Linked DNA regions of Homo sapiens: region 2 is linked to region 1. The links come from fine-mapping of genetic effects on gene expression. A gene starts in region 1. The other region holds a variant in brackets. All regions are shown on one strand. Distances are from middle to middle. Region 1 holds the start of WDR55 (WD repeat domain 55). Region 2 overlaps LOC105378198 (a long non-coding RNA gene).

Region 1 (13,254 bases):
CTGCTCCCTCCTACCCTGCCCCTCTCCTTCCCTTTTACGCTGAATTTTGACAGAATGAAACCATCCCTTGTTCCTTCCCAGAGCACCCATAACAGCTCACAGCCCACTCAGAATTTTCATGTTGGGGCTTCTAGCCCTTGGCCCCCTCCTGGCTGAAGCTTTACAGCAATAGGTAGAATCCTGTGTAGTGTTTTCTTTAACATAGCATATGCTGAAGAAGCCAGAAGACAAAAAGCAGCTGGGAGATTTCTTTGGCATGTCCAACAGTTATGCAGAGTGCTACCCAGCCACGTATGTGAAACCTGGTTAAGGAAGGGAGGCTGGGATGATTGGGAAACAAGTTGGGGGTGAAATGGAAATTTGATTCGCTAAGTCCCAGGGCTACTTCTTTTTTTTTTTTTTTTTTTTTTGGAGACAGAGTCTCACTCTGTCACCCAGGCTGGAATGCAATGGTATAATCTCTGCTCGCTGCAATCTCCATCTCCCGGGTTCAAGCGATTCTCCTGCCTCACCCTCCCAAGTAGCTGGGATTATAGGCATGCATCACCACACCTGGCTAGTTTTTGTATTTTTAGTAGAGATGAGGTTTCACCATGTTGGTGAGGCTGGTCTTGAACTCCTGACCTCAGGTAATCTGCCCTCCTCAGCCTCCAAAAGTGCGGGGATTACAGGAGTGAGCCACTGCGCCTGGCCCAAGGCTACTTCTTACTTGGATGAACTATTTTATTAGGCTCTAAGTGGGAGGTCTAGGGGGTGGTCATTCCTATGCAGATAACCTCTTAGTCGGGTAGGTTTCCAGATGAAGCATAGGGTCAGGGTATGCAACATCTGTTTAACTCTTGCTTCTCCTTAGGATGGATGACATGGCTGTGGATAGTGATGAGGAGGTGGATTATAGCAAAATGGACCAGGTATGTAGTTAGAAGGATGGTGGGCGCCTTTGGGCAGTTATTATTTGTTTTACATGTATCTCCTTCCCCACTCCTAAAAAATCTATCTCATTTACTGGGCCCCACCCTCCTTTAGCTGCAGCAGTAGAAACAGCAGCATTGAGGGTCATGAGCAGCTTAACTATTTCAGAGTCTTTGCACAAGATCAAATGACATAGGGTCAAAAATCTATTTTTTACTTCCTATAGCAAAGTGCCAGGCTTTGATTCCCATGGTAGGCAGTAAGCAAGCATCAATGCATAAGTAGAAAGGGCAGAAAAAATTGCAGTCTTTGGAAAATAACTAAATTTTATTCTAGCCAGGATTGAAGTTTTCCTCTAAGTCTTAAGCAAAATTAAAAAGAAAAAAACCACTAATGCCACTAATAGTGAAGAAGTCTGTGTTCTTCCCCTGAGTTCACTGTATTGAAATAGCATGGTTTAATCTTGGAGCCTTGTTTAATCCTGCCTCTACTGTTTATTAGTTTTGTGAACTTGCCAAGTTCTTTCACTGTTTATGCCTCAGTTTCCTCATCAGGAAAATGGAGAGAAATATAGTTCCCTCTTCATAGATTTTATGAGAATTAAGTGAGATATGCATTTAGTGTACAGAATAATGCCTGTCACATAGTAAGTATGTAATAAGCATTTATTATTACTTATCAGGGTATGATTTATGAATTGTGGAACCTGGGATTATGGGAGAGTCTGGCTTCAATCAAGGGCTGAAATTCCATTTCCACTGACATCTCTTCCTTCCCCATCCCCCGATTCTGTCCTGCAACAGGGTAACAAGAAGGGGCCCTTAGGCCGTTGGGACTTTGATACCCAGGAAGAATACAGCGAGTATATGAACAACAAAGAAGCTTTGCCCAAGTGAGTCGGTACTGAATATGGGCAGGGTGTGAGGAGGGGTGTGGGGATTTGGTGGAATAGTGCATATAAGGTTAGAGGGTGTGGTCTGGCTGAGATGTTCCCCACTAAGTTCTTTGCCCACAGGACTCTGGGAAAACCTCGCCACTGCTATGCAATCTCTGATGCATTCTTTCCCAACTGCTTTTTTCAGGGCTGCATTCCAGTATGGTATCAAAATGTCTGAAGGGCGGAAAACCAGGCGCTTCAAGGAAACCAATGACAAAGCAGAGCTTGATCGCCAGTGGAAGAAGATTAGTGCAGTAAGTAGGATGGCCCCTTGGGTGGGAGGGTTTCAGCTGGGAGAAGACATTAGCCTGCAGATTCAGGAACAGGCAAGGGGCTGGAGAGCCATGGAAATGAGAGGTCAGCCTTGGGCCTCAGGTGAGCTTAGATGGGCAGCTTGGTGATAGACTATCCTGTTGTTTTTGCAGATCATTGAGAAGAGGAAGAAGATGGAAGCTGATGGGTGAGCGGCATTATTCTTCCTCTGTGGGACTGGTGGGAATTGCTTAGTGTATTGATCTTATACTGACCCATTTCTCCTTCCATTGCAGGGTTGAAGTCAAAAGACCAAAATACTAATCACTAGTTACAACCAGAGATGCTCCACAAGGATATGCTCCCCACTGTTTTCTTTCTACAATTTCCAAAGGTTGCAAGATGTTTTTTTGTGGATGAATATAAAATTTTATTGTGTAATTACTTGGTTCCATTAAAATTGGTTAACTTGCTATTTTCTTTGTTGAGCATGTCCCCTCCAGTGCCCTTGAAGCACCAAGAACACTAATTCCACTGGTTGTGTAAAATCACATGCAGAAAGTCATCAGTCCTTTCCTGAGCTGTGGTTCTAGATTCCTAGACAGTAAGGATGCTCTCTAGCCAGTGTGCCCAGTAGAGAAGAGAATAATGATCCTCACTGATGGGCAAGAGGTGGATAGAGGAATGTAAGTATGATTGGTCTCAAATGTCAGACTCATTCCGGCCCATCTTCAGGCCTAGTCCCTGGGGAAAGATTTCCTGGGGATTGCTGTCAGCCTGATGGGCTGCTAATCTGATCTCCAGGCTATGAAGGACTGGGCTCTGGATGAAGGCATCTAATGAAAATCACTTATGGGTGGGAACCAAAACCTTTTATGAGTTTATGTACTATGAGCTTTATTAATGTTGAGTACAAATCACTGTCTCCTTGGCTAAAGGTGTAACCTTAGGGAAGTGCTTTGGGTTTAGAGCTGATATAGTGTGGCCCTGCAGGTACAGGAATTCCTATCCTAGACCAGAAGGGTTTGGTGCCCTTCATCACCCTGAAACATTTGCCAAGGCCCAGAATAGGTCTGTTGACCTTTGAATCACACCATTCCCTTCCCTTTTCTTCCCTTCTGCTCATTACCAGCACTTTGGCCTGGTGCTCATCATTAGGTGTCACTACTGCTTCCTGGCTGGATGCCACGCTGCCACTGTCTACCCTGAGCCCAAGATTTGTGGCCTCACCAGATCCAAGAAAGCTAGAAAGTCACCTTAGCCATTACCTTGTCTTTGATTATATTCACCTTGGTAGGACAGGTTTTTGTGAGGAAGCCAGTATTGTGCATGGCATGTAAGAGGCTGAAATTGGGCCTTGCTGCAATAGCACCTAGAATGGCTAATTTCAGACAAATGACACCATGGTTCTATGGATGTAGGTAGGCAGTCCCAATTATTAAAAATGGTCACAGAGACATGGCACAGGTGAAGACATCTGGAGAGTCACTAAAAGCAAGACCTGGAGATTGTGGGTTTGAAATTCAGTTTCTGAGGCCAGGCTCGATGGCTCATGCCCACAGTCTCAGTGCTTTGGGAGGCCAAAGCAGGAGAGTCTCTTGAGGCCAGGAGTTCATGAGTCTATAGCTATGCAGGAGGATCGAACCGAAGAGTTCAAGGCTGTAGTGAGCTATGATCACACCACTGCATTCTGAGCCTGGGTGACAGAGCAAGACCTTGATTTAAAAAAAGAAATTCAGGGGCTGGGCGCCGTGGCTCACGCCTATAATCCTAGCACTTTGGGAGGCTGAGGTGGGAAGACACGTCAAGAGTTCAAGGCCAGCCTGGGCAACATACTGAGTCCTCGTTTCTACAAAATATACAAAAATTGGCCAGGTGCGGTGGCTCACGCCTGTAGTCCCAGCACTTTGGGAGGCCAAGGCGGGCGGATCACGAGGTCAGGAGTTTGAGACCAGCCTGGCCAACATGGTGAAACCCTGTTTCTACTAAAGATACAAAAAATTAGCTGGGCGTGGTGGCATGCGCCTCTAGTCCCATCTACTCGGTAGGCTGAGGCAGGAAAATCTCTTGAACCCGGGAGACGGAGGTTGCAGTGAGCCGAGATCGCACCATTGCACTCCAGCCAGGGCGAGACTCCGTCTCAATAAATAAATAAAAATTAGCCAGGCGTGGTGCCGCGTGCCTGTAGTTCCAGCTACTCGGAGGATCGCTTGAGCCGAGCGGTGATCGTGCCACTGCACTCCAGCCTGCGCGACAGCGCAAGACCCTGTCTCAAAACAAAGCAAAACAAAAAAGAAAAAAAAATTCTTGGTAACTGAGCACTGCTTGTCCAGCCCATTGAGTTTCTGTAGACAAATTGTAGGAACTGGCACAGCAAACTGGCCACAAAGACGTTAGGGGCGTGGACACCAGCTGCTTGAGCTGCCTGCTGTCCCAGACTCCCGTATGTCATCGCGCAGCGTGGGATTTTGCGGCTTCCTGACAGCCCAGGCTGTCGCTTGACTTGATCTTGGGTTTCACCAAGCCACGAAGGACTAGCGTCCCTCTCTCCTATCCCAAGGGCATTAAGCCTGTCTGGATGAAGTAGGAGAGGAAAGATTTACACGCAGTTCTCAACTTTACGTGACGTGACTAGGGAGGGAATTGACGGTCGCACCGTCTACCTAGCCCAAACGGGGTCACAGCAGGACAAGGAAGTAGCCGATCTCCCAGATGCGGTCTCTTCGCTCCGCTCCACCCGCACCAGCAGCGGCCCACCCACCTCTCCTGTAAGAGGAAGAACGTCCCGGAGACACTTCCGGCCCCGCCCCCCGAGGCGGAAGCGGAGTGCCAGGCTACTCCTCCCGCAGTGTGGGTGGTTCCGAGGCTGACTACCCTGCGGCGGCGCGGCTCGCAGTCCTTCTCAGCATGGACCGCACTTGTGAGGAGAGGCCCGCTGAGGATGGGAGCGACGAGGAGGACCCAGACTCCATGGAAGCCCCAACCCGGATCCGGGACACTCCGGAAGACATCGTGCTGGAAGCTCCGGCTAGTGGGCTGGCGTTCCATCCGGCCCGTGACCTACTGGCTGCAGGGGACGTGGACGGGGACGTGTTCGTGTGAGAGCGGGGCAGGGCCGGGGCGCCGGGTCTGGAAGCTTCCCGGGGGTGGACCTGGGAACAGGAGAGATGAGAGAAAGTTGCAGGGAGACAAATTTTGCAAGATTCTTTGGGTCCAATTTATTCAGTAACATTCGGCTCTTCTATCACACCAATCTGTTGAAAGAACTGGAATGTCGTGACAGAGCCCAGATACCGTAGTAGGCCAAAAAGCCCTTTAAGGCCTTGTTATTTCCCACCGATTATTATTTATTTACTTACCTATTTATTTTTGAGACGGAGTCTCGCTCTGTCGCCGAGGCTGGAGTGCAGTGGCGCGATCTGGGCTCACTGCAACCTCCCCCTTCCGGGTTCAAGCAGTTCTCTTCCTCAGCCTCCCGAGTAGCTGGGATTATAAGCGCCCGCCACCACGCCCGGCTAATTTTTTTTGTATTTGTAGTAGAGACGGGGTTTCACCATCTTGGCCAGGCTGGTCTTGAACTCCTGACCTCGTGATCCACCTGCCTTCCTCCCAGAGTGCTGGGATTACAGGCGTAAACCACCGTGCCCGGACTCCTACCGGATTATTATATTGTGCCCGAGACAGGCTCAGCAGGCCCCTTTAAGTGATTTTTCAAACCACAAATCTTGGCTCACGCCTGTAATACCCGCACTTTGGGAGGCCGAGGTGGGCGGGTCACCTGAGGTTGGAGCTCGAGACCAGCCTGTTCAACATGGTGAAACCCCGTCTCTACTAAAAATACAAAAATTAGCCCGGTGTGGTGGCGCGGGCCTGTAATCCCAGCTACACGGGAGGCTGAGGCAGAAGAATCACTTGGATTCGGGCGGTGGAGGTTGCAGTGAGCCAAGATCGTGCCACTGCACTCCAGCTTGGACAATAGAGTGAGACACTCCCTTGATTAAAACCCTTCAATGGTCTGCTTTTAGGATTTAGTACAAATTTCTCAATCCTGCCTTCAACGCCCTGACCATCTGTGCTCATTCATCCATACCTTTTAAAAATACGTCTTGGGCCGGGCGTGGTGGCTCATGCCTGTAATCCCAGCACTTTGGGAGACCAAGGTGGGGTATCACCTGAGGTCAGGAGTTGGAGACCAGCCTGGCCAACATGGTGAAATCCTGTCTCTACTAAAAATAGAAAAATTAGCTGGGTGTGGTGGCGGGCACCTGTAATCCCAGCTTCTCGGGAGGCTGAGGCAGGAGAATCGCTTGAACCTGGGAGGTGGAGGTGGCAGTGAGCCGAGATCGTGCCATTGCACTCCAGCCTGGGCAACAAGAGCAAAACTCCATCTCAAAAAAAAATCTCGAAACCTCAGCCCATTTGCATGTGCTATTCTGTCCGGAAAACTCCTTTCCCCTCACTTTTACCTACTATCTCTGAGTTTCCAGGATCTCTTCCCTCTTCCTCTCTCCCCAGACTAAAATTGGTTACCTGTTAGATGCTGCCATGGCACCAGGTGCCATGGTACCTTTCCCTTAATAATGAATGGTTGGTAACCATATGTCCATTTGTGTAATTATTTGAATGCTGTCTCCTTCACTAATGTTTTTCAAACGTCTTTGACCTTGCCTCACAGAGAAATACCTTTTACATTATATATGATGCTCTGTGATACAATTGCTGATTTTATTCTATTATTGTGTACATGTACACAAAATGCTGATCGTAGCTTACTAGTCCGTTATATGACTAGAATGTGAAAAAACACTGTTCTGGAGTGTAATCTGTCATCGGTTTTGTTCTCTATTTTATCTCCAACCTCTAGTCTAGGGTAGATGCTCAACACATGTTTGATTTTGAACAAAAGATACAGGTTAGAGGCAGTGGAAAAGTTGAAGATGTTATGCTTATCAGATTTACTTAATGAATTTAAACCTCAACCCCTCATTAGCTGTAATGGCCTTGAGCGTGTTAACTTCTGTATTTTCATCTTTGAAAGGGGGAATTATACCTACCCTTGCAGAGGGGACAAGTTTGCAGTACAGCACCTAAGCAGCTCTTCAACAAATGTAGGTTCCCTTCTACTACTATCCATATTTATGGTGCCAGGCACTTGGGAGTTGCCCTAGACATCCACCTTTCTTCACATTCCACACAACTTTGTTGCTTCCCTTGTCTTAAAAAAGGTTCTGGAGGAAAATTCTTGGTTCTCCCCTTCCCCACCCTCAGCCATGACTATTGTGAAAAGGTTCCTTTTCCGAGGATTAAATTCAAACTTCTGCTTGGCTCATGTGGTCTCATGCCCACCCCAGCCCATCTTTCTAGATTCAGTCATGCTACTCTCCTGCTACAAGGAACCCTCCTCATTCCTTATCTCTGCTGCCTCCAGTATCTGGCCCTTGCTCTCTGCCAGGCAAATTCTACTCTTGTATGATCCAACCCACATGTCACCACCTTAGCTTTCCAGGGCTCTCTTCTCCCTTCCCAAGTATTCATTCAATTTGTGAATGTTTATTAAGCTACTTTTTCACGTTCAGCACTGGGATAGAGAAAATGAGCAGGCTCAGTTCTGCCTACCTGGAACTCACTGGCAATTAAGCATGTATTCATTCTGCCCTTTTTGAGGATCTGCTCTGAGGCAGGCACTTGGGGGTATTCCATAAACAGTACTCACCTCAAAGTTGTTTACAGGCTGGTGCCTCTCCCCCACCTCCATTTTGATCTTGCCTCTTTTTCAGCACGTACTCTCAATGTACTGTAATTAATTGTGGCTTTCTCTAGCTCCTGCAGACCTGAAGTGCAAGAGCCTGCTCTACCTTACTGATTTTTAGATTTCTAACTTCTGGGGCTGGTCTTTTGTCATTGATGTAACAAATATCTCCTCCACAGTGGTCCAGACCCAATCTTTGTCCAGGCTGGGGCTTTCAAAGATGATAAAGAGGGGTTGGGTGGGATCACAAAGAAATCTTGCGCAAATATACCTTGAACTAACATATATTGAAAAAAGCAGGACCTAACATTTCAAACTCACTGAAAATGGAGAAATGAGATGGTAAACTTTTTGGGCTTAGAGGTGTAGAAGCAGGAACTCTTAGGTAGGTGGGAAGGCTGCTCTGTCTAGTTGGTCTCTGCACTCAATGCAACCCAGGCTGGGTCTGGAGTCATTTACCCTCCTTGCCCTCTCCCCAGCTTTTCCTACTCTTGCCAAGAGGGAGAAACCAAGGAGCTCTGGTCATCAGGTCACCATCTCAAGGCCTGCCGAGCTGTGGCCTTCTCTGAAGATGGGCAGAGTGAGTACTGGGGAAGACAACCAGCAATGTGGTGGAAGGGAGCAGTGAGCAGCACCATGACCTGGGCACCTTTTCCCCAGAGCTCATTACTGTCTCCAAGGACAAAGCCATCCATGTTCTAGATGTGGAGCAGGGCCAACTGGAAAGACGTGTTTCCAAGGCTCATGGGTAAGGAGAGCAGCCAATTCTGTGTATGTGCATGGAGGTGAAGGGTAAGGACCAGGAGGTCCCCACTGGGACAGAGATGCTCCAAGAAGTTCTACATCTGTGTCTCTAGTGCCCCCATCAATAGTCTTCTGCTGGTGGATGAGAATGTTCTGGCCACTGGGGATGACACAGGTGGTATCTGTCTCTGGGACCAGCGGAAGGAGGGCCCCTTAATGGATATGAGGCAACATGAAGAGTACATCGCAGACATGGCTCTGGATCCAGCCAAAAAGCTGCTGCTGACAGCCAGGTACAACTTCAAAGCTGCCTTGCCTCCCCTCCCCTCCCTGTGTGAAATGTCTTCCTCAAATAGACCTTGCGTCTAAGCCTACTGCTCTACTCTCTACAGCGGGGATGGCTGCCTTGGCATCTTCAACATTAAGAGGCGTCGGTTTGAGCTGCTCTCAGAACCTCAGTCTGGGGACCTGACCTCTGTCACTCTCATGAAAGTACAGCTGGTTATGGTGGGATGGAGGGGTGTGTGCTGGGGGCTTAGTCTGAGGCAGCTTCCACATTGTTTTCTCTATTTCCCTGCAGTGGGGGAAGAAGGTAGCCTGTGGCTCCAGTGAAGGTACCATCTACCTCTTCAATTGGAATGGCTTTGGGGCCACAAGTGACCGCTTTGCCCTGAGAGCTGAATCTATCGACTGCATGGTTCCAGTCACCGAGAGTCTGCTGTGTACTGGCTCCACTGATGGAGTCATCAGGTGAGGGAAGCCTGGACAGCCCTTAGGTCACAGGAAGGGCAGACCCAGCTAGCCAGTACTCAACACTGTTCTTTCCCTGCCCAGGGCTGTGAACATCCTACCGAACCGAGTGGTGGGCAGTGTGGGCCAGCACACTGGGGAGCCTGTGGAGGAGCTGGCCCTCTCCCACTGTGGCCGCTTCCTGGCCAGTAGTGGCCATGACCAGCGCCTCAAGTTTTGGGACATGGCCCAGCTGCGAGCTGTGGTGGTGGATGACTACCGTCGGCGCAAAAAAAAGGGAGGACCACTGCGGGCTCTGAGCAGCAAGACTTGGAGCACCGATGACTTCTTCGCAGGACTGAGGGAAGAGGGAGAAGACTCCATGGCTCAGGAAGAAAAGGAGGAGACTGGGGATGACAGTGACTGAAGGAATGAATTGAATCTTGAGACGGGTCCTCACCAGGCAAGAGTCTTGCTTATTGGGCTGCATCCCCAGAGAGGATATGAATTATTTTTTGAAAAGACAGGGTTTTGCCATCGTCCAGGCTGGAGTGCGCTGGCTTGATCTTGGCTCACTGCAGCCTCAATGTCCCCAGGCTCAGATTGTCCTTCCACCTTAGCCTCTGGAGCAGCTGGGACTACAGGTGTGCACTACCACACCAGGCCAATTTTTGTTTTTTTTTTTTGGTAGAAACGGGTCTGTTTTGCCCAGGCTGGTCTTCAACTCCTGGACTCAAATGATCCACCTGCCTCTGCTTCCCAAAGTGCTGGGATTACAGGCACGAGCCACCACACCTGGCCAAAAAAATTTATATTTTTTGAGACAAGGTCTCACTCTGTCACCCAGGCTGGAGTACAGTGGGTTGATCATGGCTCACTGCATCCTTGACTTCCTGGGCTCAAGTGATCCACCTCAGCCTGCCTGGTAGCTGAGACTTAACAGGCATCTGCCACCATGCTTGACTAATTTTTGTGATTTTTTTTTGGTAGAGACCAGGGGTTTCACTATGTTGACCAAGCTGGTCTTGGAACTCCTGGGCTCAAGTGATCCTCCTGCCTTGGCCTCCCAAAATGCTGGGATTACAGGCATGAGCCACTGTGCCTGGCTGGATATGAAATTTTTTTTTTTTTTTTTTTTGAGACAGGGTTTCGCTCTTGTTGCCAGGGCTGGAGTGCAATGGCGTGATCTTGGCTCACTGCAACCTCCGCCTCCCGGGTTCAAGCAATTCTCCTGCCTCAGCCTCCCAAGTAGCTGGGATTACAGGTGTCTGCCACCATGCCAGGCTAATTTTTGTATTTTCAGTAGAGACGGGGTTTCTCCATGCTGGCCAGGCTGGTCTCGAACTCCTGACCTCAGGTGATCCACCCGCCTCAGCCTCCCAAAGTGCTGGGATTACAGGCAAAAGCCAACACACCCGGCCTGGATATGAATTTATAATACCCTACAGTGCAACACAAGAAGATGCACTCAAAGCACTGATGTGAGGAAGTACTTGCCCCGTAGCAGCTATTCACTCTACCAGTGTAAACAAACTCTAAGCTAGGGCAAGACAGCACAGACACAAGTATATACTAACCAGGGGTTTAATATAAATACAACCAGCATAGAAAGACCCAAAACTATACAGAAACCAAAACCAGAATGCCATGTGGTGGAGGCAAAGGGCAGAATTTCTGACCCCTTTGGCTCAGCTGCCCTTCCCCACAAATAAAAACCAACAAAGAGGACAAATCAGGACAATAAAGAAGATTCATGCTAAGCTGTGGCAGAGGGGGGAAGGTATGATCGGGTGGGGGTGGGACAAGGAACGGCCATGGAAGATCACTGGGTCAGGTTGGACCCTGGGCTGGGAGCGGGAGGGCAAGGCCCCTCACCACAACTTAACCCAAACCTAAGCTGCCCCCAGGTGCCATAGGTCCCTGTCCCAGCAGGGAGGCTGATGGGCCTGGGCCCATGCCCCTCCCCACCTTTGGGGGTCAGAAAGTGGCCACCCAGGCCTGCTGGGATGGGGCCTGACACAGGCTCTGCATGCCCATTCAGGGTGCCTGTGGAGAAAGAATGGAGTCACTGTTTAACCATGGTACCTGCCTCAGCCCCAGCAGACCACAGGAGGTTGGCCCCAGACTCACTGAGTGCCTGCAGCAGCCGTACAGACACAGCATCCTTGGCCACCTCATGCCCATCCCGGCCATCTAGGGTCAGCACAACCCAGATGAGGCCGCTGAAGGGCACCGGATGCCCAGGAATCACCACCTGGTACCAGAAGCGGTGCCAGCCAGCAGGTCCTATGCCCAAACACTTGGTGAGGAACACAGGGCTGCCCAGCTTCATTCGTTGGCACAGCAACTGCAGGGTAGCCCGAGCCCCTTGGAACCCTAACTTGTCCCTTGCCAAAGCCAACTGGCTGCCCTCTGGCTGTGGGGACCGCAAGAAGGGACCCACAAGCTGCTGGCGAAGTCGCTGCTTCAGGTCTGGCTTGAGCCACTCCACAGCCACCTGCTCTCCACAGAGGTGTGACTGCCCTGTAGGAAAAATGCAAAGACAAGGGCAGGTCTAAACCCTGGGCCCAAGCCTCCAGGTGGTGAGCCCTTTGGAGCTACACAGTCCTGTTATTTGTAGCCTTCCCATTTCCTGGTAGTGTGACCATGGGTAAGAAAAGACAATGAAGCCTTCAGCCTCCATTATTTGCAAAGGGAGTATAACACACTGCTACCTTACAAGTTTCCTTGGAGAAGTACTGGTTAATTGCAGGCTTTGTCTGCCTCATAACCATCATAATGGCTAATCTTTACTGGGAAAACTTGCTGTAAGTCAGTCAGTGTGCTAAGTACCGTACACCCATTATGTTACTTAATTCTCATAACAGTCTGAGGAAACAGATTCTATAGTAGTAAAAAGCTCAGTTGGATTCCCTTGAGCAAATCAATTTCTCTAACAGTTTCCTCATAGCTTGAGGGTCCTGTGCCTATTTTGCGGTGTGGGGGTGGGGGAAGGTTGAGAATTAAGTCAGGAGGTAATGCTCGGGAAGTGTCACAAATTTAGGTAAGCGGTGGTGGTAGCACCATTGGAAGTTTTAAAAATCTGAGATCAAATAGTAAAAGGTTGCAAATTCTGGCATGTTTGACTCTAAGATCTTGTAACTTTAACAGCTATGCTCAGTATAAAGTGCCGGGCAGAACGCGTTTGGCCCCAACCAGCACCCCCGCCCCAGCCTACCTTCCACCAGGGCCTTTTTGGCCATGGCAGCGGCCCGGTGCGAGCTGAATTTGAGCAGAGCGATCTGCCCGGGCGCCGGTCCGGGGCTGGGCAGCAGCCGCGCCTCCTGCAAGCCGGGACCCAGCGGCTGCAGCGCGAGCAGCAGCGCGCTGCGGGTCAGATTCGGCGGCAGGCCGTCAACGCTCAGCTCACACTTCTCGGTGCTGCGGCACACGAGCAGCGGGCAGGACGGCCGCAGCGGATGGTTGTGCAGCGTGGCGATGGCGGCCTGCGCGCCGCGCCTCGAGCTGTAGCGGGCATAGGCGAAGCCGCGGTTCAGGCCGCTGAAGGTCATCATCAGGCGGAACTCGTAGAGGCGGCCCACGCGCTGGAACAGCGGGATAAGCTGGTGCTCGTACACGTCCTGAGGCAGCCGCCCGATGAACACCTCTGACCCAGCTGGCGGCGGGCTGCCCACCCAGCCTGTGGGAAGAGGGTATGCAAGGCCACCGTCAGGCGACGCTTTCGAATTCTGAGCCCACGGACCCAGCGCGCGGGGGTGGGAGGCGATGTGAACAAAGGTCTGTGAAATGGGTTTACACCCGTACCCTGGGTGGTTGGCATAATTAGGTGACTGCGCTAACAAGGGGGCTGGCACAGAGTAGGTACACCTTGAGATTGGCCCCCTCCCTCGACGGGGCGGGTGGACGTGGAGCCACAGTTCCTCCTTTGCTG
Region 2 (16,187 bases), 72 kb after region 1:
TTCTTTATATCTTTACCACTTATGTATGAATGCCTGGGTGCTATAATTTAGTTTTCCTATTTTGATTACTTTCATAAATATAGTTATATTGAAGTGTTTGTTTTGTTTTGCTTCTTTTGTTCAATAATACATTTGTAAGATTTATCCATTTTGTTTATGTTGTGGGTTACTATTCCATTTAATGAATATAAGATGATTTACTTATTCATTTTAATATTGATGGATATTTGTAGCATTTCTAGTTTTGGTTCATTGTTCATAATAACTGAAACCCAGAAAAAACAGATATTCCCATCTTATACATATGTCCTGCGGCACTTCAGCATATATTTCTCCAGGGTACATACCTAGGAGTCAAACTGCTAAGTATTTAGTGGATTCATGTCTTCAGTTCTATAGTTTTGCCCAGTGGTTTTCCAAAGTATTTCTACCAGCTTACACATCTACCAGCAGTGTATCATGTCCCCAATATTTGGCATTGTACAACTTTAAAAATTTTTGTCAATTTTATGGCTGTAATTTGGTACCTCATTGTATTTTCATGAAAAAAGACAAAATCTTCATTTTAAGTATATAGAATAAATTCACATAATGTATTTTCTTTTTCTTTTTCTTTTTTTTTTTTTTTGGGACGGAGTCTTGCTCTGTCGCCCAGGCTGGAGTGCAGTGGCGCGATCTCGGCTCACTTCAAGCTCTGCCTCCCGGGTTCAAGCCATTCTCCTGCCTCAGCCTCCCCAGCAGCTGGGACTACAGGTGCACACCGCCACGCCCGGCTAATTTTTGTATTTTTAGTAGAGACGGGGTTTCACCGTGTTAGCCAGGATGGTCTTGATCTCCTGACCTCGTGATCTGCCCACCTCGGCCTCCCAAAGTGCTGGGATTAAAGGCGTGAGCCACTGTACCCGGCCCACGTAATGTATTTTCTTATTTAACCTTGAATGCTGAATAGTGTGCGTCTTTTTTTAAAAATACATCTTTAGATAAAATAGTATATTTTCAAAAAAGTACCCAAATCATAAATTTACAGCTCTATGAATTAATACAAAGTAAAGAAAACCATGAAATCACCACATGTCTATAAATAGGACTGTTCCATAAAGCCCTTCTAGAGCCTCCTGTAGTCACTTCTCTCACACTTGTCCTCAGAAGAAAGCCTTGAGGTGATTTCTAATATTACGATTGTTTTGTTTTTTCAACTTTGTATTAATGGAATAATACGTGACTGATTTTCTCATTCCTCCTTATGTTCCCATCCAGGTACTAACCAGGCCTGACCCTACTTAGCTTCCAAGATCAGAGGAGACCGGGCACGTTCAAGATGGTATGGCCAAAGACCCTCATTATGTTTCTAGATTCATCTATTTTGTTGTGCGTAGCAGTTGCTTATTTGCATTGCTGTATGGAAAGTAAGTCAAAAGACTTAATACTTTTGAAAGTAGAAATACTTTCGAAAGCAATTTGGGCTCCTCAATATAGTATAGGTTATGAGAGCTACAACAGTGCTTAGCAAGAGGTTTGGAACATAGAAAGTGTTTATTATACTTCTTTTTTTTTTTTTTTTTTTTTGAGACGGAGTTTTGCTGTTGTTGCCCAGGCTGGAGTGCAGTGGCAGGATCTCGGCTCACTGCAACCTCTGCCTCCTGGGTTCAAGTGATTCTCCTGCCTCAGCCTCCTGAGTGAGTAGCTGGGATTACAGGTGCGTGCCACCACGCTCAGCTAATTTTTTGTATTTTTAGTAGAGACGGGATTTCATCATGTTAGCCAGGCTGGTCTCGAACTCTGACCTCAGGTGATCCATCCACCTTGGCCTCCCAAAATGCAGGGATTACAGGCGTGAGCCACTGCGCTTGGTCTATACTTCTTATATTTGCAGGCAAATACCTTTTTACATTTGACAAATTGCCTTTTTATTTTTGCTTGAGTTTCCCTAAATAAAACTTCCTTGTTGTACTTATGCATGGTTCTATAATGGTGAATCAAGCCATTTACATTGGTGAATGAGAAATTGCATATTTCATGAATGCATGGAATAGTTTATGGTATTTATTCAAAATATTACACATACTTCTGCTTCCAGGAAGGTGGAGTAAATGTAATATTCCCCATTCATCCTGCTAAAACCCCAAAGCATTGTACATAAAACAAATGTAATACAATGAAAGGCAGACAAAAGGCAGACCAGCTAGGGATCTCAAGACTCAAGGTACAACACAGTCGTAAGTTTTTTTTTCCTTTTGTATTCCAGACTTGGAACTGAAGAAGCTGGCAATCTGGAAATGCCAATGGACGCAGATTTTAAAAGCCCCAGCAAAAGTCTGCTTTCTCTATTCATAGGACCAGGATCAGGAAGAGGACAGCTTAGAAAGACATAAAATTCTTAGACAATAACTGTTCTACCCCAGCCAAACACCAAACACACACACACACACACACACACACACACTCCAACAACTATGGCCCCACCCACTTCAGCAAAGGCTGAGTAGGAGCCTAAACTTCCACCACTGAGCGGCTATAAGAAGTTACCCCAAGACCCCACCAACGTGGTGTTAAAGAAGGCCAAATAGGGGACAAAATTTTTATCCATGCTGACCAGTTATGAGGTTCCCTTTTTCCCTCTGTGAAATAAAAATAAAGCCCGTAGGTCCCCAGGCAAGATGAAATGGACTCCTTGTTGCAAAAGAGACCCCAGAAAACTTTAAAAGCTGGATTCTATGGCTTTGGCAAGGTAAGAGTTCGGTCACACCTCAAAACTCCCCTACCTCATTAACTGCTTCAAGACTTTCTTTCCTACAGTTAAACGCCTGGGACTACAGTCATGTGCCACCATCCTAGGCTAATTTTTTTTTAAAGGTTTTTGTAGAGATGAGGTCTCAGTATATTGCCCAGGCTGGTCTCAAACTCTTGGGCTTAAGCAATTCTCCATCTCGGCCTCCCAGAGTGCTGGAATTACAGGCGTGAGCCACTGCACCAAGTCAGAAAACTGAGTTTTAAGAAGATTAATATTTTTATGTTTATGTAGCTTTCTGTATTACTTTTAAAGTCTTTTGATTGTCACTTCGGTTAAATGAATATTATTTTACAATGACCCGTGATCCTGTTTTGATCAAATATTTTGGGCCTTTTAACATCTTTGACAAACATCCTCAAAATCAATCCTAAATTAAGTCTTTTTACTTAGAATTAACTTTAAGATTTTCTAATTGGGCCCCTAAAAAGCTTCAACAGATATATCTCTCATTTTATAGAGATATTTTAAATGATTAGGCTTATTTGGTAAATTATATAAAAACATTGTCAAATAATAAGCAATACTAGATCTTCTTTTAATTACACTATGATATGTTGTTGATATAAATGGTTCAAAATTTATATAAATTCAGAAAGATCTAATGTGTTATCAGTCATAATTTTGGTTGTTATCTTAAAATACTACATATAATGTAAATAACTAAATGTTCTTGTCAATTGAGAACTTTCATTAGATTTTAACCATAGCCATTCTAAGTTTTTGTCATCTACAGTTACTGTTTTTAATTCTTCTCTAAAAACATTTGCAATAAGCTATAATCCAAATTGCTTTCTATCGAAAAGACTTTAACATATTTGAATACCAATTTCTCACTTGGAATAACGAAGTTCTTCCCTCCGCGGAAGACTGGACCTCAACACCAGTATCTGACACCAGACTTAGACTAGGGTTCCACCTCATGGCTGAGAAGAAGATGACAGCTGAGGTGGACTGCCTGTCCAAGATGCTGGACCAGGGCTGTATTTTAACTCGCCCACTTTTGACTTAAGACAAATTACCATTGCCATTGCCTCAAGTACCTGCGTTATTGACTGATTACCCTGACGTTGGGAATATTATGTATTCTGGAGATCCTATGTTGTGCTACAATGCTTACCCTTGTATTCCATTTTTAGATACTTCTAAAATTTCTCATCCACCTCCAAGTCCAAAATCCCTTTCCCAGAGCCTATAATCCTCACTTTAGAAAACATAGTTACCATGCTCCTTGTTAATCAAATACTCCATTACCTTAAAGAATACCCCCAGACTCTAGATAGTGACCCTCAGCAATTTGTATGGAATTTATGATTTCTCTCTTGGTTTAATTTTTTTATAACTAAAATGGACTCCTCTGTTTCACTCCTCACAATTTTAGTTTTATTGACCACTTCTGTTACCAAACCCACACCTTAACCCTTACCCTTTTGAGTAAAAGGTAATTTTACTATTCTTTTGAAAAGGTTTTTGTAGAGATTAGGTCTCAGTATATTGCCCAGGCTGGTCTCAAACTCTTGGGCTCAAGCAATTCTCCCACCTCAGCCTCCCAAAGTGCTGGAATTACAGGTATGAGCCACTGCACCAAACCAGAAAACTGAGTTTTAAAAAGATTAAGATTTTTATGTCTATGTAGCTTTCTCCTTAGATTCTGGGACTCCCACCCTTGCTACTGTACATAACCACTGAATGCCCAAAGAAAAAATATCAAACACTGACAACAGCTCCTCTTTGTTAGATATCATGCCTCTGCAGGCTTCTAGAAGGCTTGCAACAAAACCAGTTCGTGGTTCACTCACATAATAGATATCTTGTTCATAAATGAACGTATAAATTGGCATACCCTTGGAGGTATAACTTGTGCCCCTTGAGGACACACTTTCCTATATAGAATTGAGTCAGATCCCCCAGTTCAAGAAGAGGCACACAGATGCATAAACAGCTGGCAAGTTGAAGGACTTTGCCTTCTAGGTCATTACGTTGCCCTCTTTTCCATCCATCTCAATCATAAAGAAAATCTTGCTTTCCGGTAAGCTAAAAGAGAGCTACCAAGTGGATATCAGGATATGTGGTAGCATAGTTTTTGGGGTGTAATTTTTCTCAGCTACGGAGTATACACTAACAGAGATACGATAAAAAAAAATGCCGGCCACCATAGGACAAATTGCTGAAAATGCTGCAATAAGTATTATGACACAGTAGAAGTCCTTAAATTCTCTCGCTCAAGTGGTTTTAGACAATCAAATTGCACCAGGTTTTCTCATTGCTAAACAAGGGGGAATTTGCATGATAGCCCACACCACTTGTTGCACTTATATCAACATTATAGGAGATTTAACAACCCATGTAGGTAAGATCACCCAACAGGCTGCCTGGTTACAGGAGGTACAAACCACAGATCCCCTTAATAACGTTTTTAGCTGACTCATTGCAGTATTAGAAATTACTTCCAATCCATCTTACAAACCCTTGTCATTATCATATCACTATCTTGTTCCTATTTTTGATAGTCAAAGTACTTATAAGATCTATAACCAACTACTTCAAGTCTGTCACTAAAACCAAAGTTATGGTAGCACAATGCATAGAAATGACAGACAACATAAACATAAACTTACCTTCTCAACTTTTCTGTTGTTACTGTTTTTCTAGTCTCAAAGGTTCAAAGGGTCTTAATAGCTGTCTGCCTCCTTCTTGCCTGGCCTAAAATATTCAACTGGTTGTAAGTCTCCTAGCCACATGAGTCCCACTGACAGACTAGATAGACCTGGGGCAGGTATCCACACCATCCTGGGAACGACATGGGACATGTTAGAAAATTTAGCCATCAATGCTGCCTATGGCAGATTTCAGCCTAAAGCTGGAAAGTGTGAAATAAAACTAAAGTCCCTAAGCCCCTAGGTGAAACAGAATGGACTTCTTGTTGCAAAAGAGACCCCAGAAACTTTGAAAACTGCATTCTATGGCTTTGGCAAGGCAAGAGGTCAGTCACACCTCAACACTCCCCTACCTTGTTAACTGCCTCAAAACTTTCCTTCCTACAATTAAACAGAAACGAGTTCCTAAAAAACTGTCTGGAAGATTTCTCCCTCAACCTCAAGAGACCTCTTGATGTCATGGCTGACCTCCCCTCTTTTATCGTGGTTTCACCATGACTACTGACCAGCCTTATTAAACATTCCATTGTTATACTGACCACCGACCACAGACTGATTGCACCTAGTCCACAGAGGCTGTGCACAAGATGCCTTTGTGTTCTGTTTCACCTTGTTATATATAAACAGCCACGTGCCACTTCACTTTACTATTAAATCCCCACCCCAAAATGAACATGGAACATATGTAACATATATGTTTATTCTCTTTGCATGCATTAGGGTTTTCTCAAATATTCATAGATTCTCCTATAAGCTACTGAATATGTACATATAGCTCATCTTGTTGGGCATAAGTCCCAGCTTCTCCCTTTTGTCTCTGAAGCAGATGCTTTTCATTTTGGCTGGATGTTTCATTTCCCAACCTGCAGATTGTAACCATTTATAGGAAATAAAACTCTCTTTTTTCTTCTTCCTCAAATCTCATGATCTTTTGTTAATACTTCCCTTCCCAGCAGGGGGGATTATATGAGAAGACTGGACTTAGACCTCTACCCAGTGGTAATGTGGCCATCCTCACTGTGGTGTCAGGGGAGCCAGAACTTCCATGCTTACCCAGCAGTAACAATGAGCTCCCTTCTTCAGGTGGCAATGGAGGCTCTGTGGGGAACCTGGACTTCTGCCTGCACCTGGCAGTAATTAGGTGACATCTCCTTCTTTCTCTGTTCCCCCTTCTGCCTAAATGGTATCAGAGAAATCCCACTAAAACAGAAGGTTTAAATAGGATCCAGAGTAGCGGAATATAATATGAACATATCCAGGTTTTAATGAAAAGTTACTTATCATACCAGAAGATCTCAAACAGAATGAAAAAATGACAATCAACAGATGCCAACATTGTGATGACAGAGATATTAGAATTATCTGACAGAAATTTTAAATTAGCCATTGTAAAAATGCTTCAATAAGCAATTATAAACATTCTTGGAATAAATGAAAAATAGAATGCATAAGCAAAGAAATAGATGATAAAAGAAGAACTAAATGGAAATTTTAGAACTGAAAAATATAATAACTGAAATAAAAACCTCAGTGGATGGGGTGGGTGGGTTCAGCAGCATAATGGAGGAGGCAGAAAAAATAACAAGTGAACTAGAAGATAGAATAATAAAAATTATCCAACCTAAACAACAGAGAGAAATTAGACGGAAAAAAATGAATAGACTTTGATAAGTTGTGGACAGAGCAACCGCTAACATGTTATACAAAGAGATGCACTAAAAAACATAGTATTAACTCAAAATAGAATTTTAGAAAATATTAAAGTAAGATGAAGGCACGAAGAATAAAACAGAGAAGTGAAAATCCAAATGAACAGGAGGCCAGGTGCAGTGGCTCACACCTATAATCCCAGCATTTTGGGAGGCCGAGGTAGGAGGATCACTTGAGGCCAGAAGTTTGAGACCATCTTGGGTGACATAGTGAGACCTCGTCTCTACAAAAAAATAAAAATAAAAAAGCCCCAAAATGAACAATTAGTAAAATACAACATAGATTTCCTTTAGTAACAATTCTCCTCATATCCTTCCTTATTCTTCTTTTTATTCTTCTCTATGATTACCTATTAATGATGAAATACTAGATGTTTTACTTTCTATTTCTTCATAGGATTCCTCTGAATATATTTCTTTCTTTCTCTCTCTCTCTCTTTTTTTTTTTTTTTGAGACAGAGTCTCACTCTGCTGCCCAGGCTGGAGTACAGTGGTGCGATCTCAGCTCACTGCAACCTCTGTCTCCCAGGTTCAAGTGATTCTCATGCCTCAGTTTCGTGGGATTACAGGTGCACACCACCACTCCCGGCTAATTTTTGTATCAGTAGAGACAAAGTTTCACCATGTTGCCCAGGCTGGTGAACATGTTTCTTAATCGTATTCATCCTTTTTAGAATGACAGGGTGGCTTCTCAGAGGTACCATTGGGATCACCTCCAAGTTCTGCAGAATAATTAACTTTTTTTTTTCTTTTTTGAGACAAAGTCTTACTCTGTTGCCCAGGCTGGAGTGCAGTGGTGTGATCTTGGTTCACTGAAACCTCCGCCTGGAGGGTTCAAGCAATTCTCCTGCCTCAGCCTCCCTGGTAGCTGGGCTTACAGGTGTGGGCCACCACACCTGGCTAATTTTTATATTTTTAGTAGAAATGGGTTTCACCATGTTGGCCAGGCTGGTCTGGAACGCCTGACCTCAAGTGATCCACCCACCTAGGCCTCCAAAAGTGCTGGGATTACAGGCGTGAGCCACCACCCCTGGCCCAGAACAAGCAACTTTCAGCCTGATTCTTAAGCATGGGCCTTTATGATAACATTTGTCGTTATAAAATAATTTGTGAGTTGCTCCCTCACTGCCAATTTAATATTTTTAAATTTTAAAACCTATTTTATTTTTAAAAATTTTACTTCTGACCCATGAGATGTAATTAATATTTGTTTTTATAATGAAGC[G/A]TCAGGTTTGTTTTTCTTATAAATGACCTTTCATGAATATTTACTTCCATGTTCAGAAAATTTGCTATTCTTATTACCTACTAGTTTTTCTGTAAATTTGCTGGATATTATAATGTTTATAATCATATTAACTCTAAATAAGGAGAGTTTTATACTCGTATTAACTCTAAACATACAGAGTTTTAACTCTAAATAAAAAAGTTTCATATAAGAAGGTGTATCTTCTCACTCATAAGTGGGAGCTAAGCTATGAGGCTGCAAAGGCATAAGAATGATACAGTGCACTTTGGGGACTCAGGGGTGTAGGGTGGGAAGTGGGTGAGGGATAAAAGACTACAAATTGAGTTCAATGTATACTGCTCTGGTGACGGGTACACCAATATCTCACAAATCACCACTAAAGAACTTACTCACGTAACCAAATACCACCTGTTCCCCAAAATCCTACGGAATAACCTCCTTATACTTTTCCCCTTCTTTTTCTAACCATGGAGAATGCCATATGAACACCTCAGACCTTTATATTTTTCTCTTGTTGTATACACTGGTTAGGCCCTTTGGAACAATGACGACAGGATGATTAAAGTGATGATAGCAGACATCCCTGTCTTGTTCTGGATTTCAAAGGGAAAGCTTTAATCATTTCACCATTAAGTATGATGTTTGCTTTAGCTTTTTTTTTTTCCCCTGGACACCCTTACCAAGTTACAAATATTCTCTTATATGCCTAAGGATACAACTAATATCTGCTAAAAATCTTAAGATTAATTAAGATTATTTTAAAATCATGAAAGGTTGTTGAATTTTATTAAGTAATTTTTCTGCATGTACATAGATAATCATGATTTTCCCTTTAGTTCATTAACTTTGCATATATACTAATTACTTTTATAATGTTAAGTCAACCTCATATCTTGGAGAAATTCTACTTATGCTGTATTATTCTTTTTTATGTACTACTGGATTTAATTTTCTAATAATTAGTATGGGTTTTTTTTCATTTATTTACATTAATGACATTAGACTGGGCTTTTCCTTTTTTGTGTGTATTTTTTACAATAGGATTCACTATCAGGTTATTTTAGCATTAGAAAATCATTTAGGAAGTGTTCCTTCTTATTAATTAGGATAGTTTGTATATGATTGAAATGACTTAATTTTTCTTTTCTTTCTTTTTCTTTTATTGAGACAGGCTCTTGCTCTCTCACCCAGGCTGGAATGCAGTGGTGCGATCATGGCTCACTGCAGCTTCCACCTCCTGGGCTCAAGCGATCCTCCTGCCTCAACCTCTCAAGAATCTGGGACCACAGGCACATACCACACGCCCAGCTAATTTTTTATTTTTAGTCGCGATGAGGTCTCACTGTGTTGCATGGGATGATCTCGAACTCCTGGGCTCAAGCCATCCTCCTACCTCGGCCTCCCAAAGTGTTGGGATTATAGGTGTGAGCCACTGTGCCTGGCCCTAACAATTCTTTGTTAGATGAATATTCATGTTAACATTTTTATGCCTTTGCAAAATATAATTCCCAGCAGAACATGGTCATATACCATGATTGTCTCCTTTTCTTCTTTCTACTTTTCCTGAAGTTAATGCTTGACTTTTCTTCATGTGCTTAGTTTTCCTTGGACCTCTTGTTAATTTTTTGCACATTCTTCAATAACTCTTAGTACAGTTTTCTATGTGGTATATCATTTCAGGTAATCAGAGAAAGTATTAATACAAAAGAGCTATAAGATACCAGAATGTTTAGGCCCAGATCCAGAGAGGAGTAATTGTTGTGGGTTATTACCTAGTAACCAGGTAACAATGAAGCTCTGGTAGCTTTAAAGACCCAAGGCTGGCATTTGGCAGTTTGGGAGGATTTCATGGGTCTGACTCATGTACTGGCTGTGAAAGTTGATTTGAGCTAAAATGACCCCGGTTTGGTCATCTGGGAAGCACTGAGGCTGGTCCAAGACTTGTGGCAGGTAGCCACTGAGTGGGAGGAGGGAGAGTGAGCCTAGACACAGCTGGGGGAACAGTTTTTAGGGAAAGGAAGACATGGGTTTCTCTCAGTGGTGTGCATCCTCAAATGGGGGCTTCCCAAGTTTGTGTGTCCTGGTCTGGAAGTTGTGGTGGGTAGAAGGAAACTTAAAACTCAGCATCGTTCTTGAACCATTCAGGCCTAGGCTGACCCTACTGCCCAGGGTATACCAACTCATGACACTTATCTGTCAAGGAACTCCAAATTCAATCTACTTTCTGCATTATCTCAGTGATATATTTGCATGCTTCTTCCTGTCTGTGTTTTGGGGGCAGGTTTGATGTCCATGGACCCTCTTTAGTCCTCTATGTATGTCCCCACCAAGCTTATCATTTTCTTGGAGATGGGAGAGAGCCCTTTTTCAAGGAGGGGTCTAAAACGGCATGGATTCCTGAGAAGACTAGGCTGGGTCAGGAGCTGAAGAGGTTTAAGGTTGGGACAGAAACTCTGGAGGTTAGCCTTGGTAAGAGTCTTTTGAGACCTACTCCATGAGTAAATCTGCTCTTCACCAAATTTCCAGATCCCCACAGTTCCTCTGAGCAGCTTCTCACTACTGTCATCTCTCCCAGATATGAACCAAATCCCTGGTTGCCAAGACAAGTTGACAAGGTTTGAAAAAGAAACTATTTTGAAACAGAACTTCAAGGAAAAATAAGAACCCATTCTCAGGCAAATCCTAGCAGCTTTGATTAGTAAAGAAACAGCAGTCCTTGTTTGATTCAGACAGTTTATTACTTACATAGACACAAAAGGAAATAAGCAGAATTTCCAGCTCTCCCACAGGACAGCACCAATACAAAAGGGGATGGCAACCTGAGTAATGAGACACCCTGTTGCTGAGGAGCTGAGTCCATTTGCAACTAAGAAGTTTATGGCTTGCAGTTCTGCCCTAAGAAAGATGAGGCAGAATGCCTCATACCTTATCAGAACCTGGGAAGTGATAAGAACTGCCTCATGACAGCCTCCCAAGAAGATAAAAAGATGAGTTGAAAGTGGCCTTGTGGTAGTTCCTCATAAGCCTGTTCCCCAAGGATCACAGAATGTCCGCCAAGACTTTGATTAATTATGGTTAAGCCTTGCCTGTATGGCCTATGTGAGTACATATAAGGTTGGCAGGTCAACGTGGCAGAGCCATGCCCCTACACCCATATACAGAAGAGAGCAAATGAACAGATAGTTGACCAGCCTGAAAAAGCAAAACAAGGGAAAAGAGAATAATAATTGTCATAATAAGTAAAAGGATAATATGCAAGGGATTTCCCCTCTTTTTCTGAGATAGCATCTTACTCTGTTGCCCAGATCTGAGTGCAATGACACAATCACAGCTCACTGCAGCCTCAACTTCCCAGGCCCAAACCATCCTCCCACCTCAGCCTCCCGAGTAGCTGGGACTACAGGCACATGCCACCATACCTGGCTAATTTTTAAGAAGTTTTTGTACAGAGGGCATCTCACTCTGTTGCCCAGGTTAGTCTCAAACTCCTGAGCTCAAGCAATCCTCTCGCCTTGGCCTTCCAAAATGTTGGGATTGCAGGCATGAGCTGCCCCATCTGGTTAAGAGTTTTTCTTTTGCCCAGGAATTTGAGCTATGCTGAAAACAGAAAGAAGTAATTCTAAGAGTAGCTTCCACCTGATTGCCAAGAGTTAGTGGCCAAGCCAGCTTTCTGATAACCAATCACGATATCACCCCCTTACCTTTCCCCAATCCCCAGTTTGTATAAAGACGGTACTAGGGAAAGGGATAGTTGTCAGAATCCTTGATAGTGGGTTGGGGGAAGGTTGTCACAGTGTGAGACCTTTCCTTTCATCTAGGGAGCCATGTGATGAGAAAGAATTCAGTAGGCCTCTGTGGAGAATGTGAGTGCCTGCAAGAAATGAAGAATGACATTTGGTACTTGGTTGGACAATTGGACTCATACATATATACATATATAATATATATATATATAATATTTTTTAAAGTCAGGAACCAATTATAGATCATGCATTGCTTTTAGTTGTCATGACATCTCTCCAGTCTCTTTAATCTAGACCAATCTCACCTGATATTCTTTTCCTTTTTGTGACAGCCAGTTTTAAAATAATTTTAAAAAGCTGTGGTAAAATCCATAATATAAAATTTACCATCTTAACCATTTTTAAGTGTACAGTTCAGTAATGTTAGGCACATTCACATTGTTGGGCAGTCAATCTTCAGGGCTGTCTTCTTGCAAAACTGAAACTCTATGCCCATTAAACAACAACTTCCCATTTTCCATCCTCCAGCTCCTGACAACCACCATTCTGTTTTCTGTCTCTGTGAATCTGACTACTCTAGGGACCTCATATCAGTGGAATCATATAGTATTTGTCATTTTGTAGTGTGATGGGATGATCTCCGCTCACTGCGACCTCCGCCTCCCGGGTTCAAGCGATTCTCCTGCCTCAGCCTCCCTAGTAGCTGGTATTACAGGCGCACACCACCATGCCCAGCTAATTTTTGTATTTTTAGTAGAGATGGCATTTTACCATGTTAGTCAGGCTGGTCTCGAGCTCCTGACCTCATGATCCACTGGCCTCAGCCTCCCAAAGTGCTGGGATTACAAGCGTGAGCCACCGTGCCCTGCCGGTAATTCTATTTTTAATTTTCTGAGAAACTGCCTTACTGTTTTCTAAAAAGGCTGCACCATTTTACATTCCCATTAATAGTGCACAAAGGTTCCAATTTCTGCACACCCCTTCCAACACTTATTTTCCCTCTCTTTCTGGTGTGAGATGATATTTATATGGTTTTAATTTGCATTTTTCTAATGATAATTGATGTTGGGTATTTTTTTTAGGTGAAAGCAAGTTTACTAAGAAAGTAAAGGAATAAAGAATGGCTATCCCCCAGGCTGAGCAGCCCCGAAGGCTGCTGGTTGCCTATTTTTATGGCTATTTCTTGATTGTATGCTAAACAAGGGGTGGATTATTCATGAGTTTTCTGGAAAAGGGGTGGGCAATTCCCAGAACTGAGGGTTTCTCCTAGTTTTAGACCATATAGAGTAACTTCCTGATGTTACCATGGCGTTTGTAAACTGTCATGGCACTAGTGGGAGTGTCTTTTAGCATGCTAATGCATTATAATTAGTATATAATGAGCAGTGAGGATGACCAAAGGTCACGTTCTTCGCCATCTTGGTTTTGGTGGGATTTGGCTGGCTTCTTTACCACACGCTGCTTTATTAACATGGTCTTTGTGACCTGTATCTTGTGCCGACCTCCTATCTCATCCTGTGACTTAGAATGTGACTGGGAATGCAACCCAGTAGGTCTCAGCCCTATTTTACCCAGCCTCCATTCAAGATGGAGTTGCTCTGATTCAAAGGCCTCTGACAGACTTCCTCCCTCCCATTTATTTATTTACTTATTTATTTAATTTGGAGACAGAGTTTTGCTCTTTTTGCCCAGGCTGGAGTGCAATGGCATGATCTCAGCTCACTGAAACCTCTGCCTCTCAGGTTCAAGTGATTCTCCTGCCTCAGCCTCCCAAGTAGCTGAAATTACAGGTGTGTGCCACCATGTCCAGCTAATTTTGTATTTTTAGTAGAGACGGGGTTTCACCACGTTGGTCAGGCTGGTCTCGAACTCCTGACCGCAAGTGATCCACTGGCCTCAGTCTCCCAAAGTGTTGGGATTATAGGTGTGAGCCACTGCACCTGGCCCCTCCCTCCCTTTTATAAGAAAACTCTTAATCCTAAGGGTTGTAGCAGGATGAAGATCCATGTTTTGTAACTTTTTCAGGCTGAATAGGGGCAATGATATTCCTGCCTAATTATTAGGGTCTCTTGTATTCAGGGTAGAGAGTAGCTCAATCAGAAAGCATCAGTATGTCAAGCACCATTCATAACCCTGAGTACTGATAAAAGGTGACATCTGGAAGATTAATAAGTGTTTAATTTGGGAAAACATTGAGTAAGCTTGTTCTGCATTCCTATGCAAAGAGCACAACACCAATATATTCCACAAAAGTAAAGCAAAATAAGTAAAGTTATCTCAAGTAAACTAAATAAGAAGGCTTTCCATAAGCTAGGCAACTGTTGGAACTGAGCTAATATGGAGTCACTAGCTGATTTCAATACATGCCCAGAATTAGAATATTGATCCACATTTTTATATCACCTATCCTTCTTGTTTCTTCTATCAGCCAGACACCACTGGTTGGTTTACAGGAATAAGCAGTCTAAATTGCAGACAAAAAACTCAAAAACAACTGATGAGACTAAAATCTGACAAAAGGTGTACCATAGTTCCTGAAACATATTTTTTCTCTCTCCAGTCTCCCATTTTTACTAAAGACAAATCATGGTAAGACCAATTTGCTTTAATATACTTGGCCTAATTATTTGTTTAAAGTGCAGCAAGAATAATTATTTGCCACATAGGCTTCTTTTAATTGGTTTTGATGGAACTCTGTTCCATAAAGAATCTCAGATAAGACTTTTTTTTTTTTTTTGAGATGGAATCTCGCCCTGTCACCCACGCTGGAGTGGAATGGTGCGACCTTGGCTCATTGCAACCTCCACCTCCCGGGATCAAGCAACTCTCCTGCCTCAGCCTCCTGAGTAGCTGGGATTACAGGTGCACGTCACCATGCCTGGCTAATTTTTTGTATCTTTAGTAGAGACAAGGTTTCACCATGTTGGCCAGGCTGGTCTTGAACTCCTGACCTCGTGATCTGCCTGCCTCGGCCTCCCAAAGTGCTGGGATTATAGGCATGAGCCACCGTGCCTGGCCTAAGTATTTTTTTTTTTTTAGATGGAGTCTCGCTCTGTCGCCCAGGCTGGAGTGCAGTGGCACCATCTTGGCTCACTGCAACCTCCGCCTCCTGGGTTCAAGCAATTCTCCTGCCTCAGCCTCCTGAGTAGCTGGGATTACAGGCGCCCACCACCATGCCTGGCTAATTTTTGTATTTTTAGTAGAGACAGGGTATCACCATGTTGGTCAGGCTTGTCTCGAGCTCCTGACGTTGTGATCCACCTGCCTTGGCCTCCCAAAGTGCTGGGATTACTGGTGTGAGCCACCGCGCCCGGCTAAGACTTTTTGTTGTTGTTGTTGTTGAGAGGGAGTTTCTCTCTGTCACCCTGGCTGGAGTGCAGTGGTGTGATCTCGGCTCACTGCAACCTCTGCCTCCCGGGTTCAAGCAATTCTTCTGCCTCAGCCTCCCAAGTAGCTGGGACTACAGATGCGCACCACCATGCCCGGCTAATTTTTGTATTTTTAGTAGAGACGGGGTTCACCATCTTGGTCAGGCTGGTGTGGTCTTGAACTCCTGAGCTCGTGATTGCTTTCCTCGGCCTCCCAAAGTGCTGGGTTTACAGGAGTGAGCCACCGCGCCCGGCCTCTCATTTTTTTTTAACAATTATATTGTACACCATTGACACTGTTCAGTAGATTCATCATATTTCATTCAGTCTCAGCTGATTACCATTGGGTTGTTTTCCAGTTATTTTATTATAAATGATGTCACAATAAATAACTTGGTGTATATAATGTTTAATATTTGTGAAGGTGTATATTTAAATTTTTAAAGATGGAATTGCTAGTTCAAAAGACAAATGCATTCATCATTCTTTGAAGATATTGCCAAATTACCTCCATTGTGGTTCTACCATGTTTTTCACTCCTACAAACAATACATGAGAATGCCTACTTTTCCACAACCTTATTAATAGAGCCTATTGTCAATTTTTCTAAATGTTTGTTCATCGGATTGATGAAAAATGATGTCTCAATGTGGTTTTAATTTGTATTCTTGTTATG

What was found. PIP is the estimated chance that this variant, and not a neighbour inherited with it, causes the effect.
Region 2: its variant is fine-mapped to the expression of WDR55 in whole blood (TOPMed, PIP 0.98).

The regions. Positions count from the first base shown.
Region 1 is chr5:140,659,905-140,673,158 of GRCh38, forward strand. WDR55 (WD repeat domain 55) reads left to right here and starts at 5,000. Exons shown (of 7, transcript NM_017706.5): 1 at 5,000-5,199; 2 at 8,330-8,430; 3 at 8,511-8,598; 4 at 8,708-8,887; 5 at 8,987-9,086; 6 at 9,175-9,344; 7 at 9,429-12,441. The coding sequence starts at 5,009. The coding sequence ends at 9,750. It overlaps IK (IK cytokine), which reads left to right. Exons shown (of 20, transcript NM_006083.4): 15 at 211-291; 16 at 854-911; 17 at 1,716-1,804; 18 at 1,995-2,103; 19 at 2,275-2,309; 20 at 2,398-2,576. The coding sequence ends at 2,425. It overlaps LOC124901088 (a long non-coding RNA gene), which reads right to left and starts at 5,533. Exons shown (of 2, transcript XR_007058968.1): 1 at 5,461-5,533; 2 at 2,507-5,253. DND1 (DND microRNA-mediated repression inhibitor 1) reads right to left here. Exons shown (of 4, transcript NM_194249.3): 3 at 12,541-13,002; 4 at 10,890-11,846. The coding sequence ends at 11,389. RefSeq lists enhancers at 4,411-5,077, 4,495-4,654, 5,005-5,134, 12,546-13,254.
Region 2 is chr5:140,730,840-140,747,026 of GRCh38, forward strand. It overlaps LOC105378198 (a long non-coding RNA gene), which reads left to right. Exons shown (of 4, transcript XR_001742904.2): 2 at 1,258-1,321; 3 at 2,246-2,728. Among named protein-coding and RNA genes, the nearest start is that of ZMAT2, 38 kb to the left of the region's middle. The variant G/A (reference allele first, on the strand shown) is at 8,380.